Regions from separate parts of the Homo sapiens genome. Here region 2 is linked to region 1. Evidence: fine-mapped expression QTL. A gene starts in region 1. The other region holds a variant in brackets. All regions are shown on one strand. Distances are from middle to middle. Region 1 holds the start of PAQR9 (progestin and adipoQ receptor family member 9). Region 2 overlaps HLMR1 (hepatic lncRNA metabolic regulator 1).

Region 1 (4,386 bases):
ACTCTTTGGGGCTTTATTTGGGATTTTACTCACTGCCTTTGAGAAATCCCTGGATGTCAAAGACATCACCTGAATTTTTTCCAGGGGCAAGAACAAGTGACTATCTCCCTCCCGCTTGACCACCCCTGCCAACCTCCCTACTTCAAAGCCTCCAGTGGGTTGGGATCCCTTTGTAGCAGTGAACTTTTTCCCTATGGTTTTGCAGCACCTTCCTTGAGCAAAGAAGAAAACACAATGAAATTTGAAAACAAACCAACAATAGCAACAACAGAAACTCCAAACAGATGGGCGAACCAGTAGTCTCCTCCAAGGCGGAGGCTCACTTTTTACTGCAGAATTCGGAGCTGTTTAGGAACTTCCTGATTACCAGCCCCAGGCAGACCACCAGCAGCAGCATGTAGCCCACAGTACCCGAGAAAGTGGGTGCGGCAGGCGGCGCCTGGAGGAACTGGCGCAGGCCCTCTTCTACGTAGTACACCTGGTCGTAGATGCTGAGGAAGGTGAAGATGTGGAAGAGCTGGTGGCTGTGGCCGATAATGTCGAAAAGACCCGGCTGGATGCGCTCGGGGATCTTGCTCACGTTGAAGAAGGCGGCCACCACCAGCCAGAAGTAGCGGCGGTAGAAGTGCACGAAGAGTGTGGGGTTCTCCCCACGCAGGTCGAAGAGCCAGCTCTCGAGCATAATGGGGCAGGCCATGCTGAGCGGCATGACGAAGACGAAGGTGCGCAGCGCGAACGGGTAGGTACACCAGTCGGTACGGCTCTTGCAGCAGGCCACAGTGCAAGCCACCGCCAGCACGAAGGCCACAGGCAGCACCAGGGCGCGGTAGGCGGCGATAAGGCGCGTGCAGTCCACGTGCCAGCCCAGGCGCTGCTGCAAGTATGGAGTCATGACTCTGGCATCCAGCAAGCTGAGGCCTGGCAACAGGTAGTAGTAGTAGGCCACCGTGCTGCCGAAGCCGTAGTAGCTGATGGACGCGTAGTCCAGGTAGAAGAAGGCGGCGCGCAGACGCAGCGACAGGCAGCTGAACACGTGCGCCGTGCAGCTCATGGCGAAGGTCAGCAGCACTCCCGACGCGTAGCACCACAACGGTAGCAGCCACGGGTGGTGGAAGGGCACGTCGCCGCCGCTCAGGAAGAACAGACGGCAGAACTTGCTCAGGAACAGCAGCAGCGGGATGAAGTGCGTCCAGAAGTTGAGCGTCTCGTTGGTAGGCTTCAGCACCGAGGCTAGGCACTCCTGGGCCGTGCACGGCAGACGCCGGTAGCCCGACAGGATGAAGCACTCCACGAAGTCGTCGGGCACCTCGTCCCAGCGCAGCAGCGGCTTGGCAGACGCTGGGGGGTCCCGGGAGGCGGCAGAGTGGGAGTTCCGGGCGGCCCCCGAAGCTGCCGGGGCCGGGGCCGGAGGGCCTTTTGTGCCCGCGCCCCGGGGCTGCAGGCGCCGCGGCATGGTGCCCGGGGCTCGGCTAGGGCGCGCGCAGGCGACCTCTGGCGCCGGCTCCCGGGCGCTGGGCAGCCCCCGCCGGCCGCCGTCGGAGCCTTTGTGCCCACGCCGGGGGCGTCGCTGCAGGTTTAGGAGAAGACCCGTGCCTCCGAGCAGCCGCTCCTAAAAATTAAATAAATCAATAAGAGAATCAATTAATAGGCAGCGCTGCGACCGCCAGGAGCGCGGAGCGCGCGAGGCTCAGCGGCTTCCTCGCCAAGCCCCTGCTACCGGCGCGCGGCCGCCCGCGCTGCGGCAGCGGCGGCGGCGCGGCTGACTGCGGCGGCAGCGCGGCAGCGGTGACTGGGCATCGCGCGGTGCGGGTGCCTCCGCCGCCGCCGCCCCCGGAGCGGGAGGTGGGGATGTGCGAGCCGAGGCGCGGAGGGAGGGACGGGCGCACCGAGGAAGGGCGGGGGCCTCCCAGGCTAGGGTTTCGCGGCCGCTTCGGGGGATAGAGTTGTCCCCTGTCTCGAGTTCCGTACCATCCCCCTCCTCGGGCCGCCGCAGCCCGGGCCGCCCCGTTAATGATTGATGCGGGGGCCGCAGGCTGGTCGGCGACGCGGCGGCGCGCGCGCCGAGTACTAGAGTCGGCCCTGGGGTTCGAAACCCGACAGCCACGCGGGCGTTCTGGAGGACACTGGGGAGCCGCGTTCGCGGGGGGCGGGGAGCTGCGGCTGCGGGGGGAGGGGAGGGCGCCGGAGCCGGGCAGGGCGGAGAGATGCGCCAGCGGTAATCTCCGGAGGTCGCCGGGGAGGGGGGCACTCCGGAAGTCGGGGGGCTTTAAGCCCGCGTCCGGATCGGGGCCGTGTCATTGTCAGCTACCTGGGGATGCGCCTCTCGCTCCCTCACTGTCTTTGCGTGTGTGTTAGTGTGTGTGTGTGTGTGTGTGTGTGTGTGTCGGCCTGTCTACGCACTACACGAAGGCTTAGTTGGTCTTCTTTCGTCTAGTGGGCGCACTCAGGTGCGTCACCATTCTGCCGTTTCCCTCGCCCTTGTCCTGTCCGAAAGAACCGTCCGCAAGCTGCCCTGTGGTCGCGCTCACCAGCTCTTCGAGCCGCAGCTAACCCATCTTCTTGTTTTTGTGTCTTTAACTAGGACTTCTATTTGGAACTGAGTCCGACAGCTCAGGACTGGCTGCTCAAACTCCACAATTTAATGAAAAATCTCAGATGATGACTCAGAAAACCTCTAATGATCTGAGGAATATATTAAGGGATTCCAGAGTCAAAGGCTGATCATGGAGGGCATTGATGAGGGAAGACTTCAGGTAGGAGGTGCATTCTAGCAGGAACTGAAGAGAATGAAGTCCAGTTGGTAGAAACGGAGGGGGTGGCTTGGATAAATCTTATATGTAATTAATCAGAAGTACCTGGCAGGTGGCTGGAGACCAGAAGAAAGGAACACTGGAAGAATGAAAACGGTTGTGATGCACTGCAGTGTGAAAATATGCCCTTGAGCCTTAAAGAAAGGGGCTTAAGGCCGGGCGCGGTGGCTCACGCCTGTACTCCCAGCACACAGATCACGAGGTCAAGAGATTTGAGACCATCCTGGCCAACACGGTGAAACCCCGTCTCTACTAAAAATACAAAAAATTATGTGGGAGTGGTGGCGCACGCCTGTAGTCCCAGCTACTCGGGAGGCTGAGGCAGGAGAATCGCTGGAACCCAGGAGGCGGAGGAGGTTACAGTGAGCCGAGATCGCGCCACTGTACTCCAGCCTGGCGACAGAGCGAGACTCCGTCTCAAAAAAAAAAAAAAAAAGAAAAAGAAAAGAAAGGCTACTTTCATCGCTACTGCACATCCTCTAAGTAGGTTAAGGAAGATTTACTTAGTAGAGCCTCAAGATGGATTTAAGTTATGGATAAGAATTATTTATAACTAGGATATCATTCAGTATTATAAGTGTCTGCAGTTACTTAAGGATGCTAGAAACAGTCTAGAAGTTTCAGTCTTCTCTCTGAAGTATACTTTCAAGTAGTAACTGATTTAGCAAGCTCTTACACAATTAGATCAAACGTGCGCTTCAGTCTTCTGCCTTTCTGCACTGCCACACATTCCTGTCTAGTGGATTTTTTTTTTTAGGCGTGGATTTTTAAGAAGTGAGATTTTGTTGTAGTTATTTAGCCAGTGTCTTATTTTAGTGTTTTCTGGTTTTCCACTGTTTGTAGCTTGTTTTAAATTGAAATCTAATTTCCTTTTATATCTGGACTGAGGACCCATGGCTATTTGTAAAATGGATTAAATTTAGGTGTTTTAATCAAGTGTAGGAATGATAAACTTGAATCCAGGGCAGGCCCGAACTTTTTTTTTTTTCATATTCCCTTTGTTACTCCACAAACAACCAGAGCTGTCACGTGTAAAAATGGTGATCCTATAATAATTCTTATATTTACCACACTCTTAGTTGCATAATCAGCTCGCTTACATAATCTAGAAAAATATAATAGAAAGTTCACTTCAAGCAAAACAATGGAATTGACTGTAAATGGGTATGCAAAAACTTGAGTTAGATAAAATATCTTTATGACAAAGAATGGTGAGATTGACTCTAATAAAATATGTTCTTTTAAAAAATCAGTATTTTATAAAGTAAAAAAAAAATGTTTCATGTTAAGTCTTTGAAAAAGTCTTTGTGATATCTGCCTTTGTCCTTTCTCACACATCCCCTACCCTGCTTGAGGCACAAAACCAGTTGATGCCATGGAGTGAGTGGTGTTCATGAAAGTTCACTGGTGCAGAGCCCAGTCAGCTGTCCTTGCTATACCTTGACAAAGCTCAGTAAAAAGGAACTAAGGAAACAGCAAAACTGACCTAACTTATAAAGTAAAACAGCAATATGGCTTTTCCTTAATTGCTACCAATCTATAGAATTAATTTCTCTTACTTTTTAAATTGAGATAT
Region 2 (4,386 bases), 29 kb before region 1:
ACAATATTGTGAAAAAATTGAGCTCCCTAAGAAATACTTAAATATATGGATGCCAATGATTAGTCTACAAAAGAAAAGTAATATTCAGAAGAGTAGTAGTTGTTTCAGATATAACTTTAATGTATTTCATTATAGAAAATTGGCTTGAGTTTCAGAAGTTCGGTTAAGAGATCTGGAGTCAGGCTGACCTGGGATGAAAAGCCCAGCTCTAGCCATCACGTAGAAGTTACCAAGTCTCTTTAGGCTTCAGTTTTTCTCCTCTTTTAGATAAAGATGGGATAGTACATAAGTCATAGGGTTATTATAGGTTTTAAATGAGATAATTTAGTATCTGATCCCCAGTGCTCAATAAACATTATTATTATGACCCATAATAGTGCCAGTGAGGAAAACTAATTCTTTGTGAGCAATAATTGGTGTTGAGCAAAGCTGTATTAATGCTAGTTATCTTGGGAAAGATCAATTCTAGTTGGAACTTTTGCAACAGAAAACAGGATGTGATTTTTTCATCATTTTAAGAATGTGGTGTGTGTGTGTGTGTTTGTGTGTGTGTGTGTGTGAACTCATTCAACCCATTTTATGGAGCACCTACCTTGGGCCCAACAATTTTTCTAGGCACAAGGTTAGATGCGAGTCAAGGTAGAGTAGGTCCCTGTCCTCAAGGATTTTCTGTTCATGAAAAACAGCTTATTATTGTTCTTTTTTTGTTTTCTTTTGCAAAAGGAGCAATTCAGCACTTGTCATGCAGATAAGAGGTCAACACCCCAGGACGGAGTGAAAACCTAAGGTTTGTATTTTTGATACACAAAGTGCTCTTTTGGAGGAAACCAAAAAATGTCGAGTTTCTGGCAAGGTATGGAAACAGGACAGAAGGAGACCAGAGTCGAAGCACCAGAGGGCATAGATGTGGAAAGTGGTCCTAGTTAGGAGCTGTTGCCCAGGAAATGTTGAGGGCACAAGCTGTAAGCAGGACCACAGTGAAGACAGCTAGTGTCAAAAGCCCTGCCAAGCCAGTCCTTCACAAGGGCTGTCCAGCCTTTAGCATGGGGGACTCAGCATGGCAGGCCTGTACCTAGTAAAATTTCTGTCTTCCCAGTGGTGACAATCGGCTCCTTCCGCACCTGTAAGAGCAAATTTGGTTCTGCCACTGTCTGATTGCCTGGTGCTCACAGTTCACTTCCCTGTCAAGCCAGGTCATCCTAATACCAGAGAGGACTTCACTTCTCCCTAGCAATGACCAATTCTGTGAAACTGATTACTCCAAACTGTATGTATAGACTTAGCAATGAGGAAAGGCTTTGCCAGATCATCTTTTAAAACTAAACCTCAACTTCGATGTGCTCTCTGTGCTCCAACCACACCTGTCTTTTTCCTTGTTCCTCAATGGTGTCATGTTTCTGTTACAGGGTCTTAGCATAAGCTATTTCTTCTGCCTGGAGGGCGCATCCCCCAACCATCACATGACTGGCCACATTGCTCAGACTTTAGCCTAGATGTCACCTCTTCAGAGAAGCCTTCTCTGACCACCTTATTTAATGTTGATCACTCCACCTGCAGCCCAAACACCAGCTAATAAATTCCCTCCTACTCCTCCATCGTTTCTTTAATTTTTATGCCTCATGTGAAAAGTATCGAGTCAATCACATACTTCAGTTCATGGTATAATATTATTACATTTCTTTCGTGGATATTTTCCCCATTCATCCCTGGTTTCCATTTCCGTTACCTCTCCTTTCACATATTCATTCACTATAAGGCATTACATATATATCCTTGTCTAAAAATGTAATATTGTCAAATGTAAGTTATTATTTGGTATATCATATGTTTCACAAATAGTATTGTGCAATAGACCTTGCTCTAGTTATTATGTTTTGTATTCACCAGTGTGTTCTAAAGACCCATCTGTATCTGTTATATATGTAGGTACACTTGGTTCATTGCTTCTAACTGATCCTTGGTATCCCGTAGTGTGCATTCATCCCTGCTCTGGATACAGTCAGCTCCCAAATTCCATAAACAACTCCTTTGTAAGTAACCTCCTTTTGACAGGGGGTAGAATTGCTCAGGGTCCAGATGCTCCCATTATTATCTGTTCCTCACCCTGGCCAGGCTGTGGCACTGCCCTGATATTATCCCATCACCTCCGTGTAGCAGATATTTTGTCTCAAGGTGGTTCCAGGCCAGG[C/T]GATTATCTGCCAAGGACAGTGGTTAGAGAGAGGAAACAGCCTGCAACTCTGCCTGCACCATGTCCTAACAGTGACTTTCTCTGCTCAGCCTATGGTTTACCCACAGCAGGTCACAGCCACCCTTTCTCTCTGCCCAGTGGTTTCTTATGGTTTTTACCTAGATTTACGTCGACTTGCAGATCAGTACACTCCTCTCCTGCTTCTGAGGCAACATCAGGGTTGGAATTTGTGGAGTTCCTTATAGTCTTCATAATGCTAATCACTACCTGAAATTATCATCTTTTTAATTGGTTTACTTGCTTATTGTCTGTCTCCCTCACTGTAAGACTGTAAATGCCACATGAGCAAGGACCTTATCTGAACACCTTCCTAGGTTTGGGGATATCCCACCACATGCATACCACTGAGGGGCAGAGATGCCTTCCAGTGTAGAAACAGCTAGGACCATATAGTCACAGCCCCAGGCAGCTTCACAGCTAAGGCACGGGCATTCCTTCTCTATTTGGCCATCAGACCGACCTGTGAATCCCAAGTTGGAGAAATGAAGTCACCAAGGCAGTGGAGAATTCAGTGGTCGGGGCAGCTGTAGTGGCAGCAGTAGTGCCTGTGGCAACAGTTTCAGGAGTAGCAGTTGGTATCCTGCCTCCAAAGACAGAATGTAGGTCCACCAGCAGCACCGCCTTTACCAGACTGGTACTAGGACCTAATTTTGGAAGTGGTTCTTCCTATCGAGACTTTGGGCTACCTAATATCCTTTCAACAAATTTGTTATTTCCTAAATCAGTCAGAATCAACTTTTAGTGTGTAAACTGAGAACCCTCAGTAGAACTATTAGCCACAATGTCCGCTTTTATTGTCTAAGTCCATTTGAGCTGAACTTTCTGTAACTTGAAGACAGAAGCTCCCTAACTCAGGGGTCCTCAACTCCCAGGCCACACAGCAGGAGGTCAGCAGTGGGCTGGCTAGCAGGGGAGGCTTCATCTGTATTTACAGCCGCTTCCCATCACTCGCATCACCGCCTGAGCTCTGCTTCCTTCAGATCAGCAGTGGCATTACATTCTCATAGGAGTGGGAACCCTATTGTGAACTGTGCTTGTGAAGGATCTAGGTTGTGTGCTCCTTATGAGAATCAATGCCTGATGATCTGTCACTGTCTCCCATCACCCACAGATGGGACTGTCTAGTTGCAGGAAAACAAGTTCAGGGTTCCCACTGATTCTACATTATGGTGAGTTGTATAACTATTTCATTATATATTACGATGTAATAATAATAAGAGTAAAGTGCACAATAAACGTGATGTGCTTGAATCATCCCCAAACCATCCCCCACCCTTATCCTGTCCATGGAAAAATTGTCTTCCACGAAACCAGTCCCTGGTGCCAGAAAGATTGGGACAACTGCCCTAACTGATGTAAGAGTATGGGCAATAAGTGTTTTCAGTGCACTGAGTGATTAAAGATTGTTGGGGCAGGGTGTGTGCAAGTTGAACTTAGCTCAGTGCATCCACTGGCAAGGAGGTGGTAGCAGGAAATAGGCATGTGGTGACTTCAGTAACAGAGACGACTGCAGGGCTGACCTAAGCTTAGTAGCCTGGCTTCTCCGGGAGCTGAGGGTGAGCATCATGCCTGCTCCATCTCCCTCTTTGTTGTGGATAAGGCAGGTAGGAAGAATGACGGATTGCCTTACCCTTTCTAATTGTTGTGTGCTCTCCATACCCCACCCAATCCTACTTCAACATTGTCACCTAAGGATTCACAAACCCACCCTTGTGCGAATCCAGCCGTCTGTGTTCTAGACTGGCAAGGACCATATCTGATTCTGAGATGCTCAGGAAGGTGTGCTCCCAATTGGCCCTTGTCCAGACTAGTTTACTTGCTGAGTATCCCCAGGGCACAGGAACAATCATTTGGGGTTGCGGCTTTGTTCATAGGGTCATCAAGACAGGAGGATATGAGGCAGAATCACCACACAAGGTAAGAGTACATTTAGAAATTCTCTTGAGTAAATAATACTGGCTTTATCACTATGCTTATTTCTGTGTTTCTACTTGCTCTCAGATTTTGGCTTGGTTATTTCTTACTATCTTGTTAGCTCTTTGATGCCTCTAGTTTTGTTTTTATTTTTGATATTGTTGTTTTCTTTTCTTTTTTTTTTGAGATGGAGTCTCGCTCTGTCACCCAGGCTGGAGGCCAGT

What was found. PIP is the estimated chance that this variant, and not a neighbour inherited with it, causes the effect.
Region 2: its variant is fine-mapped to the expression of PAQR9 in whole blood (TOPMed, PIP above 0.99).

Annotation. Positions count from the first base shown.
Region 1 is chr3:142,961,884-142,966,269 of GRCh38, forward strand. PAQR9 (progestin and adipoQ receptor family member 9) reads right to left here and starts at 1,791. Exons shown (of 1, transcript NM_198504.4): 1 at 1-1,791. The coding sequence starts at 1,453. The coding sequence ends at 320. It overlaps PAQR9-AS1 (PAQR9 antisense RNA 1), which reads left to right and starts at 2,175. Exons shown (of 5, transcript NR_125393.1): 1 at 2,175-2,215; 2 at 2,582-2,753. RefSeq lists a silencer at 820-1,005.
Region 2 is chr3:142,932,482-142,936,867 of GRCh38, forward strand. HLMR1 (hepatic lncRNA metabolic regulator 1) reads left to right here. Exons shown (of 5, transcript NR_038455.1): 2 at 724-787; 3 at 3,942-4,165. Among named protein-coding and RNA genes, the nearest start is that of HLMR1, 8.0 kb to the left of the region's middle. The variant C/T (reference allele first, on the strand shown) is at 2,189.